Linked DNA regions of Homo sapiens. The protein of the gene in region 1 interacts with the protein of each later gene in a pairwise test. Each region holds a gene or a part of one and is shown in the gene's direction. Other genes may lie near its edges. The genes, in order: LYN, A2M and GAB1.

What was found.
Region 2: the proteins of LYN (region 1) and A2M interact in binary tests that used the Homo sapiens proteins (3 or more experiments, as listed by UniProt).
Region 3: the proteins of LYN (region 1) and GAB1 interact in binary tests that used the Homo sapiens proteins (3 or more experiments, as listed by UniProt).

Annotation. Positions count from the first base shown.
Region 1 is NC_000008.11:55,886,276-55,889,933, forward strand, and holds part of LYN (tyrosine-protein kinase Lyn), read left to right. Parts: intron 1-3,658. UniProt on the Homo sapiens protein: Non-receptor tyrosine-protein kinase that transmits signals from cell surface receptors and plays an important role in the regulation of innate and adaptive immune responses, hematopoiesis, responses to growth factors and cytokines, integrin signaling, but also responses to DNA damage and genotoxic agents.
Region 2 is NC_000012.12:9,098,765-9,102,422, reverse strand, and holds part of A2M (alpha-2-macroglobulin isoform a precursor), read left to right. Parts: intron 1-748; coding exon 749-976; intron 977-1,215; coding exon 1,216-1,279; intron 1,280-2,899; coding exon 2,900-3,042; intron 3,043-3,658. UniProt on the Homo sapiens protein: Is able to inhibit all four classes of proteinases by a unique 'trapping' mechanism. This protein has a peptide stretch, called the 'bait region' which contains specific cleavage sites for different proteinases.
Region 3 is NC_000004.12:143,469,372-143,473,029, forward strand, and holds part of GAB1 (GRB2-associated-binding protein 1), read left to right. Parts: 3' UTR 1-3,658. UniProt on the Homo sapiens protein: Adapter protein that plays a role in intracellular signaling cascades triggered by activated receptor-type kinases. Plays a role in FGFR1 signaling. Probably involved in signaling by the epidermal growth factor receptor (EGFR) and the insulin receptor (INSR).

The DNA of each region.
Region 1 (3,658 bases):
TGTCGCCCAGGCTGTAGTACAATGGTGCAATCTCCACTCACTGCAACCCCTCCTCCCAGGTTCAAGCGATTCTGCTGCCTCAGCCTCCCGAGTAGCTGGGATTACAGGCATGCACCAATGCACCACCATGCCCGGCTAATTTTTGTATTTTTAGTAGAGACAGGGTTTCATCATGTTGGCCAGCCTGGTCTCGAACACCTGACCTCAGGTGATCTGCCTGCCTCGGCCTCCCAAAGTGCTGGGATTACAGGCATGAGCCACGCGCCCAGCCTGTCAAACTTATTTGACCACAACCCATAGCAAGAAACATTTTACCTTGTGCTCAAATACACATATCTGTAGGCAAAACAAAATAGAAAAAGGAAAATACAATCTGGTGGAACAGCCCCTCCCCTTAACTTGCAGGGGAATGTGGCCTGGAGCAGCTTTTCTGAGGTAGGATTGGCCAGCTCCATCAGAGTTTGTTTGTTCTGATGCATAATAGATATACATAGTTTCAGGGCACATGTGATAATTTAATACATCATATAATTTGTAAAGATTAAATCAGTATTTGCGATAGCCATCACCTTAAATATTTGTTTTCTTTTTAAATGCTGAATCTTTTGAATTCTTCTAGCTGTTTTGAAATGCACAATAGTTAATGGTGAACTCTAGTCACCCTACCAGGTCTTATTTCTTCTATCAAACAGTATATTTGTATCCATTAATCAACATATTTTCATCCCCCCTTCCAACGTACAGAGATGGGCAGTCCAATAGGGAGGTTTATTAAACAAACACAAATTAAGTCACATTCATATAATGGGATACTTTGTAAATATCTTAAAAGATAAAACATTCAATTACAGTTACTAATATGAAAAATTTTTTTTCAAAAGCTGAACACGGCCAGGCGGCCAGGCGCAGTGGCCCTTGCCTGTAATCCCAGCACTCTGGGAGCATGAGGCAGGAGGATTGCTTGAGCTCAGGAGCTCGAAATCAGCCTGTGCAATTTGTCTCAAACAAACAAACAATAGCAAAAGAGCTGAACACAAACTAGTAGATGACATGATACCATTTCTGAAATAAAATATTCATATATGGACACATCATCTATAAACTGCATTTCAAACAATTTTTATACTAAGATCTTAATAGTGATTATTTCTGGGTGACAGTTGAGTGCTGTTTTTACTTCTGTACGTCTTTATATTTAAAAGAATGAGCATCCCATATATACATAAATATATATATAAATCCCACATATAAATATATACATAAATCCCATATAAAAATATAAATATATATATATATATATACACACACACACACACACACACACACACATATATATATATTTTTTTTTTCCTGAGACAGAGTCTTGCTCTGTCACCCAGGCTGGACTGTGATGGTGTGATCTCGGCTCACTGCAACCTCCACCTCCCGGGTTCAAGTGATTCCTGTGCTTCAGCCTCCTGAGTAGCTGGAATTACAGGCACACACCACCATGCCCAGCTACTTTTTGTATTTTTAGTACAGACAGGGCTTTGCTGTGTTGGCCAGGCTGGTCTCGAACTTCTGGCCTCAAGTTATCCGGCTGCCTCAGCCTCCCGAAATCCGGGGATTACAGGCATAAGTCATTGCGCCTGGCTCCTTATATGATTTTAAAACGGCAGGATATAAGGAGCAATGGAATGAAGCCAGTGGGACTGCAGAAGGCAGGTGGAAGCAGACAGGGAACTTTGGAGCTAGAGTGACTTGAAGGACGCTTGATGGATATAATTGTAAGAGTCCTGTCTCAGGAGAGCTGATGCGCTGTAAATGTTGTAAATAGAACATTTTCTTAAAGAACCTTCCACTGCTATGTTTAGTATTCAGTTTAGCAAACTTTTCCTGGGTAGCTACTGGGAGTCCCGCACAGTGTTAGGAGTTGGGGTACACACCTGCCATGTTGGTGGAAATCCTGAAGGGAGTGGGCCACACACCCTGGAAGAAGGGGCTTTCCTGAGGAAGGACAGCCTGACTATGCAGGGGTCATTCCACATTACCAGAGCTTGTTCCAGAGAGGCAGTGGGAGGCTCCACAGGCAGGCTTGGAGGGTGCTTGGCCCTAATACTAAATGTTGGACTTCATGGCATTAACGAAGGGGAATCACTGGAGCCTTTTAGTATGAAGCTAATCTTTTTGTCCATCACAGGCAACTTCTTGCCTACACTCTTTTACAATATGGCATTTATGACATAGCCAAGAGCGAAGACACGTTGAACACTGACTTAATGCTTTGAGTAGGTGGAGAGTTGAATGACTCAAGGCTACTTCTCTAGAGATTAATTTGAAGCTAGAAAGTAACATTTATTTCTGTTTTCTGTGACAGCAATAGGCTTCAGCTTGTAATCGTCATCTGCAAGTAGGTACTTGACACCTCCCCTAAGTGACCTGGAGAGTGACAGATACAGTAATGGGCACAATCCTTGGTTTTTTGTTTTGTTTTGTTTTTGAGACAGAGTCTCACTCTGTCATCCAGGCTGGAGTGCAGTGGTACGATCTCACTCACCAGGGATTTGGCCACCACGCCTGGCCGAATCCCTGGTTTTAAGCAAAATTTTAATATGGAGTTTATGGTTGTTGGTATAATGAAATGCGGCACCATAGCAGTTGATTTTTGTCTTTCAGAACCACACTGGCTTTTTGTATTATTTCAAATTTGATAGATGCCCAATGTATGTAACAAAAATTTTCCCTCACGTGTATTTCTTTCTTTATTTATTTGTATGTTTTGAGATGGGGTCTCACTCTGTCGCCCAGGCTGAAGTGCAGTGGTGCTATCTCGGCTCACTGCAACCTCCACCTCCCAGGCCCAAGCCATCCTCTCACCTCAGTACTGGGTAGCTAGGATTACAGGCCCCGCCACCAGGCCTGCGTAATTTTTTTGTTTTTTGGGAGGCCAAGGCAGGAGGATAATTTGAGCTCAGGAGTTTGAGACCAGGCTGTAACCCCAGGCAGGAGTACAGTGGTGCAGTCATAGCTCACTGCACCCTTGACCTCCTGGGCTCAAGCCATCTTCCCACTTCAGCCTCCAAGTAGCTGGGACTACAGGTGTGTGCCACTATGCCTGGCTTATTTTTTGTAGAGATGGGGTTTGGCCATGTTGGCCAGCCTGGTGTCAAACTCCTAAGCTCAAGGGATCCACCTGCCTCAGCCTCCCAAAGTGCTGTGCTGGGATTACAGGCGTGAGCCACCACACCCAGCCCAAGTATATTTATCGAGTGCTGTATGTCATGATAGTGGGTGGTTTGGGGGAATACCAACATAAATAAGTGGGAGGTTTCTATCCTAGAGGAGTTTATTGTGCTCTGTTCTCTCTGGATTGTTCACAAACCAGAATGCCGATCAAAGACTTTGCTAGGGTTGTGGGTGGGCGACTTGCTCAGGAGATCCCTGGCACCCAAATGAGTGCCCAGAAATCACTCTGAATGGTCAAAAGTAAGGCAGGGCAGGGCGGTAGAGCACAGGGTGTCGAATTAATTTCATGTGGGGGCTGAAATCCCAGGTCTGTCCCTTCCTAACTGTGGGCTGCTGCTGGCAAGGTGCTGGCCTTGCTAGCCTCAGAGTCCTCATGTTTAAACCTCAGCAGTTTGTTGTGAGTGTTCTAGGTTACAGTGGATTCCAAACTAGC
Region 2 (3,658 bases), on another chromosome or scaffold:
GCAACGTGGTGAAACCCTGTCTCTACAAAATATACAAAAAATTAGCTGGGTGGGGTGGCATGCACCTGTAGTCCTAGCAACTCAGGAGGCTGACTGGGAGGATCACTTGAGCCCCAGAGGCAGAGATTGCACTGAGCCAAGATTGTGCCACTGTACTCCAGCATGGGCGCCAGAGCAAAACCCTGTCTCAAAAAAATAATAATAATAGCAATCAGCCTAAGATAGCCCAGAAGAGGTAGACTTCAGCTAATTCATCAGCTCAGCTCTTAAACCAATGCTTTCTACCAATGTCTTCTCAGACCCCTAAGGTTACAATATTTTATTTATTCATAATACCCATTCAAAATCCACCCTAAAAGAGGCAGCTGCTTTCTGAAAGCACAGTTCTTCCATTTCTAGAGATTATTTACTCTCCTCAATGAAGTTTCATAGCTCCAGTGTCTCTAATTGCACAGGTAAAGCAGTCAAAGAAATTTCAAGCAAGCTAATCAGAGCAAAGGATGCCTCCTTTTATGCTCTTAAGAAATATAAATCTCAATCCCAGGAGGCTCTGCAGTGTAAAGTCACAAAGCATGCCTACATTTGAAGCAGAGAAACAAAATCAGGGGTCCTTCTCCCACTTTTCATTGTGGAACAAAAGATTTCTAGCTACTAGTTAAGGTAGGACAGTAAACTTACGTAGTTTTGTGAGAACATTAATCTTTATGACGTATAATCTAAAAATAATATAATTTTTCTAATTCATTAGGTCAATTACAAGGATCGTAGTCCCTGTTACGGCTACCAGTGGGTGTCAGAAGAACACGAAGAGGCACATCACACTGCTTATCTTGTGTTCTCCCCAAGCAAGAGCTTTGTCCACCTTGAGCCCATGTCTCATGAACTACCCTGTGGCCATACTCAGACAGTCCAGGCACATTATATTCTGAATGGAGGCACCCTGCTGGGGCTGAAGAAGCTCTCCTTCTATTATCTGGTGAGAAGGGAGGTTACTGCGTTGACTTCACTGTAGACAAAAGCTCTCTGTGGAGCAAGTAATCATGAAGCTCTTTAGATGTCATTACTTCAACTTCTTATCCATGTTCCTTTTGAAAGTTTGATTTCTCTTGAGGTGAATTATTGCCGGCAGGGACTCAATAAAACAAGTATATTGAAGTGAGACTGAAGCGTGTTCTCTCTGGCACATTTAATTTCTTTTTATTTCCTTTTTTGCAGATAATGGCAAAGGGAGGCATTGTCCGAACTGGGACTCATGGACTGCTTGTGAAGCAGGAAGACAGTGAGTATTTCCATCATCTCTGCATTGCTGCCCCATTCTGACCCATTCAGCCTTACACCACGGAAGTATCAGAATACTTTCCCTTTTTTTCCATAGGTTTTTGGGGGAACAGGTGGTGTTTGGTCACATGAATGAATAAATTCTTTGGTAGTGATTTCCGAGATTTTGGTGCACCCATCACCCGAGCAGTATACATTGTACCCAATTTGCAGTCTTTTATCCCTCACCCCCTTCCACCCTTCCCCCTGAATCCACAAAGTCCATTGTATCATTCTTATGCCTTTGCATCCTCATAACTTAGCTCCCACTTCCTAATAGCTTAGCTGCCACTTCCTAATAGCTTAGCTCCTACTTCTGAGTGAGAAGATATGATGTTTGGTTTTCCATTCCTGAGCTGGGAATATCAGGAATACTTTCAAGTAACGAGAGACCATTTCCATCTAATATTAATTAAAAGAAAGTTGAGGGAGGGAAAACAATAATGGTTTTTTTCTCACCCTTTATCAAATATGTGTTGTCTTTTTTTTCAGCCTATTTTCTTTGCGTTATTTAAAATATTGGTGTGGGCCAGCTATGATGGCTTACGCCTGTAATCCCAGTACTTTGGGAGAACGGGATGGGAGGATCTCTTGAGGTCAGGAGTTTGAGACCAGCCTGGTCAACATAGTGAGACCCCATCTCTATAAAAGTAAATAAATAAATAAATAAATAAATAAGAACAAAGGGGGAAAAATAAAATACATAAAATATTGTTGTGTATAATCTATGCTTATTCCAGATTTTTAAACCATAAATATTCTTGAACCTCTTCTCAAAATGAGAATTGTGTTAGAGAATGGGGTGGAGAAAATGTACGATTTCAAGGTATGTTGTATATACCAGGTCTTGTGCTGAGTCATTTATGTCATTTATATTATTATAAATATCTTTTTTCCCTTTCAAGATAGTTATGATTTATGAAGCATTAAATTGGGTACTTCTACCGACTGAAGCGGACTCTTGCCATGAGCAAATATGTCATAATATAAACCTTTGAAGGTTGCTCCTAGTCTAGTAGACTCTAAAAGATAACTTGCTAGAAAAGTATCAGTAATCTACTCTCTCATTAGTTCTTGTAGCAACACAGAAGCACCATAGCAGACTGAAGGAAACTTAATGCAACCTCTAAAGAATCTACATAGGCATCAAAAAATAACTTCTGAAGGAGCATGGTGTTCCTCTTATGGAGAAAGAACCAAATATTGGCTCATAGAAGGTTAAAGAGCATGTAGCATGAATACAATGTGTTGAACTCTTACTCTTACATCTCATAACTTCAGGTTCTATTTCCCTCTTCTAGTATGAGGCCTAGATCAAATGGTAGTGAATTGGATGTCTTCATACCCTTAACTAGCATCAGAACATTAGGTGGGTGAGCTGAAGCTTAAAGCTGGTGAAAAATCAACAGAGTATATGATTTATGAGAGGAGAGAGGGCTTTGATAGGGTTTTTTTCTAAAGCTAGAGTCCTTAGAGGTAATCATCCATTTGTTACATCTACTGTTTATTATGTCTGTTACATCTACTAATGGAAATAGTCATTAACCTATGATGGCTTCCTCTCATTCTCTTTGTGCCCCAGTGAAGGGCCATTTTTCCATCTCAATCCCTGTGAAGTCAGACATTGCTCCTGTCGCTCGGTTGCTCATCTATGCTGTTTTACCTACCGGGGACGTGATTGGGGATTCTGCAAAATATGATGTTGAAAATTGTCTGGCCAACAAGGTGTGTGTTTTAGATCATAAAATCTTCAACATGTAAAACTAGAAGTTACTATTGTTATCATTTGTTTTACACATGTGAACATTAGGGCCAAAAGGGTTAAACAAATTCCCCAGAGACATTCAGCAAGGTAGTGGCAGAGTCACACTAAGAAGCAGAATCACTTGATTCCTTATACAAAACTCTCAAACTTCTCCTAGCAGTGCCTCTTACCAATTACACAGTTCAGAGTATGTTATTCCCTTCTTCTATGATGAAACGTTGGGAAATATGTAAGCAAGTTTTTAAGACTACTAAGGAGCCAAAAGAAAAATGCAAGAGCACCTAGACCCATGCATGTCCCACCACAATTAATGAGCACCTTGCCGTGTATCAAAGATAAAAATGGCATTTCATGACTAGTAATTTATAAGAATAATTAGAAATAATTCTACTGGCTCAAGTGATTCTTGAGAATGAAAGAGAAGTGTAGGGAACAAAAAGCTTCAGGATTGACACAATGCCAACCCTCCACGAAGTCAAGCAGAGTGGTTATACATTGTACATGAGGAACACTCTGCAAATGCGAGTGAATGCATGGGTAAACCTGGAAATTTGCTTTTCTGACCTTTTGTTCCAA
Region 3 (3,658 bases), on another chromosome or scaffold:
TTCATAACATGTAAATAATGTGGGAAAATAGTATTGTTTAGCTCCCAGAGAAACATTTGTTCCACAGTTAACACACTCGTAGTATTACTGTATTTATGCACTTTTTCATCTAAAACATTGTTCTGGGTTTTCCCAATGTACCTTACCATAATTCCTTTGGGAGTTCTTGTTTTTTGTCACACTACTTTATATAACAATACTAAGTCAACTAAGCTACTTTTAGATTTGGAAATTGCTGTTTACAGTCTAACAACATTAAAATGAGAGGTAGATTCACAAGTTAGCTTTCTACCTGAAGCTTCAGGTGATAACCATTAGCTTATACTTGGACTCATCATTTGTTGCCTTCCAAAATGCTGAGGATAATGTATGTACTGGTGTCAGGACCTAGTTCTCTGGTTAATGTACATTTAGTTTTTAATGGTGGAACTTTGTTATATTTTGTTAATTACAGTGTTTTTGGTTCATTGAGTGAAGATTCTGCCGGGTGGGATCTTGCACCTTTGAAAGACTGAATAATTACACTACCAAGTAAGCCTGCAAATCATTGATGGCATGCAGTGATGATGTGCTCTTACACTTGTTAACATGTATTAAGTGTTATTTGCAAAAGGTAGATTATGTAACCAATCAGGTACGTACCAGGCAGTGATGTGCTAATACACTGATCAGGTTTAGACAATGAGCTTTGGTTGTGTTCTTGTTAGTCCTAATATTGGTTTTCAGTTTGGAATTAATAAAGCAGTTGACATTCACTGTTAGTTACAGCAACATACTGTGATTTTTAATTAGATAGTAATTCAGATTTATTACTCTATGAAATTCTGTCTTTTGACACCATAGTGCCCTTTCTATGATTTTTTTTACTTAATATTCTTCTTGGCCTTATATTTAATTCCCTATGCAATTAATATTTTATATCTGCATTTTTTTAAAAAAAATAGATGTTATATAAGTGATTCTCGTATGTAGCACCTGTTGCTTTTCCACTGAAAGAATTACGGATTTTGTACTGTGATTTATATTCACTGCCCCAATTCAAGAAATATTGGAGCCTTGCTACAATGTGAAATGTTATAGTCATGGACTCCTTCCAACCAGATTTCTGAAAACACCAGAGGGATGGTATAATTCTGTCTCACCTATAACATGGTCCTGTGACATAGATATTAAGACCACAAGTTGTAGTGAGGCTACAATTATATTCGTCTGTCTTGGCTTTGCAACATAATTTAGAAAGCACGTATAGTTGTTTTTTAACCAAGTTACATACAATCTCATGTACTGATTTGAGACTTATAACAATTTTTGGAGGGGGCATAGAGAAAGGAGTGCCCACAGTTGAGGCATGACCCCCTCCATTCAGACCTCTAACTGTTGCCTGAGTACACAGATGTGCCCTGATTTCTGGCCCATTGGCCATAGTACTGTGCCTAATCAATGTAATAGGTTTATTTTCCCAATCCTCAAACTAAAAATGTTCATAACAAGATGAATTGTAGACTAGTAACATTTGATGCTTTTAAATATTTGCTTCTTTTTAAACAAAAACTAAAACCCAGAAGTGAATTTTTAGGTGGATTTTTAAATAAAAAAGATTGATTGAGTTTGGTGTGCAAGCTGTTTTATAATGAAACAACAAAATGAAATCTAAAATCCTGAAATGTGCCTAAACTATCAAAACACACGATACAGCTAATGTGTAAAGATGCTAAATTCTGTTACTTGGAGGATGAATATATTTAAGATTTAAAACACAATAATAAATACATGATTAATTCAAAAATAAAAATCTTTACAGCTGCCTATCAAGGGTCTAAAGCACTTAATGAATGTTTTTAGTCTAACTTATCATTAACTTTTTACAAGTCACCATATTTGAAGATCTGTAGCACTCTGATTTTCAGAAAATTTTTCATTCTGAATAATTTAAAAATGGTGATGTATTAGAAAGGCAGTTTGCTTTAGAAAACTAAATCACATTGAACATTGTATTAGAGAATTAAATTAAAAGTTTCTTACAGAGCAGTATTTTCCAAACATTTTTAGCACTAGAATCTTTTTAGATGAAATTTTATGTATAACCCCAATACATAAAGCCTGAAAACTCAATTTTATCAATATAAATGTATTTTGGGTTCACATTTATGCTTATTCATTTTGGCTCATTACTAAGCATAATAAGATTCTGAGTTATTTCTGAATAACACAAATGTGGAGTTATACATAGTTGATGAAACCAGCAGCCAATTTATAGCTATGCCCTGTTTTATTTGTATACTATCAAGAAAATTTTGATTCACACAAATGTAAGCAAAAATAATAGGTTTTAAACATACATCTCAGGAAATTCTTTAATTAGAGATAGCTAAAGTTATTCAAGGTCTATACAAAAATAAGTTATCCTGGTAGTGGAAGTTAATACATAAGCAGTCTCCAGTGTGGTAAAGTAGGGTATGTAACACATCAGAATGTGCGTTTTTATTAGGTTTTAAAATATGCACGTATAAAAACTAAATTTGAATCAAACCCTTTTAACTCACCTCCAAGAAGCTAGACTTTGGCCAGGAATGGGCTAAAAACCACTGGTTAACGATGTGACAGTTATGATCTTGGAGATTGGAAATCTTTCTTCCACATTAGAGTTCTTTACCTTAATTCCTTATTCTGAAAAATTGTAAGATTTTATGAAGGTTTGAATACTGAAGCACAGTTCTGCTTTCAAAAATTAAAATTCAAACTTGAAAAAGCTGTTTAACCCATGGAAGATATCATTTAGTAAGATGTAAAAGATTTTTTAAATCTACACTTCAGTTTATACATCTTTATCATTATCAATACTATATAAGTTACTGTGAGCATTTTAGAGAATTCCATAAAGGTACTATGAGTGTGTCTGTATGTGTGTGTATATATAGCATTGTATTTAATCATAGACTAAATTTAATTTGATATAGAAATACTACTTTACTTGTACATTAAGGTCATAATTTCTGCTGGACTCTTTTATATTTAATTAATGGGGATTATAGTCTTCCTTCATAAATGCATTTAAACCTGAAATTGAACACCAGTGTTTTTCTTTTTCTACTTATGGGAAGTTGTCTGCTTCCCCCTTTAGAGAAAACAGTATTTTTATATTTTGTTAAAATATTAACTACTTTATGCCTACACACTATGCTGTAGATACTGATCATAATTCTTGGGTGTTCACAAACACTCCTAGTGCCTCTTTTTTGGCCCGTTGAAAGTGTTGGTATTACTACTTTCACTACAGAGCCTTTGGCCCTCTAATAATGCTGAGGTGGGCTGATCCTTCCCATTTCTGTCTTCGGGTCATTCTGGTAGGTCTTCTCCTCCACTGTCAAGTAAGCAATCAGGTCCGTGACAGGGATTGGACATATGAACAAATTAAGTGGATACACACAGTGAGAAAGATACATGCATTCTATGGTAACAACTACTGTCAATAACATCTGATGTTACATGCACATTTATATATATATAATTTTAAAAACTGAACTATGAGAAGCCATGGTATAAATGAATATTGTGGACATCATGGACTTGATATGATAGAAATCAATTGTCAGCTTGAGAAAGTTGTTTTTAATCTGTCTAAATAGTTCATGCATTACTACAGTTAAAAATAGTTTCA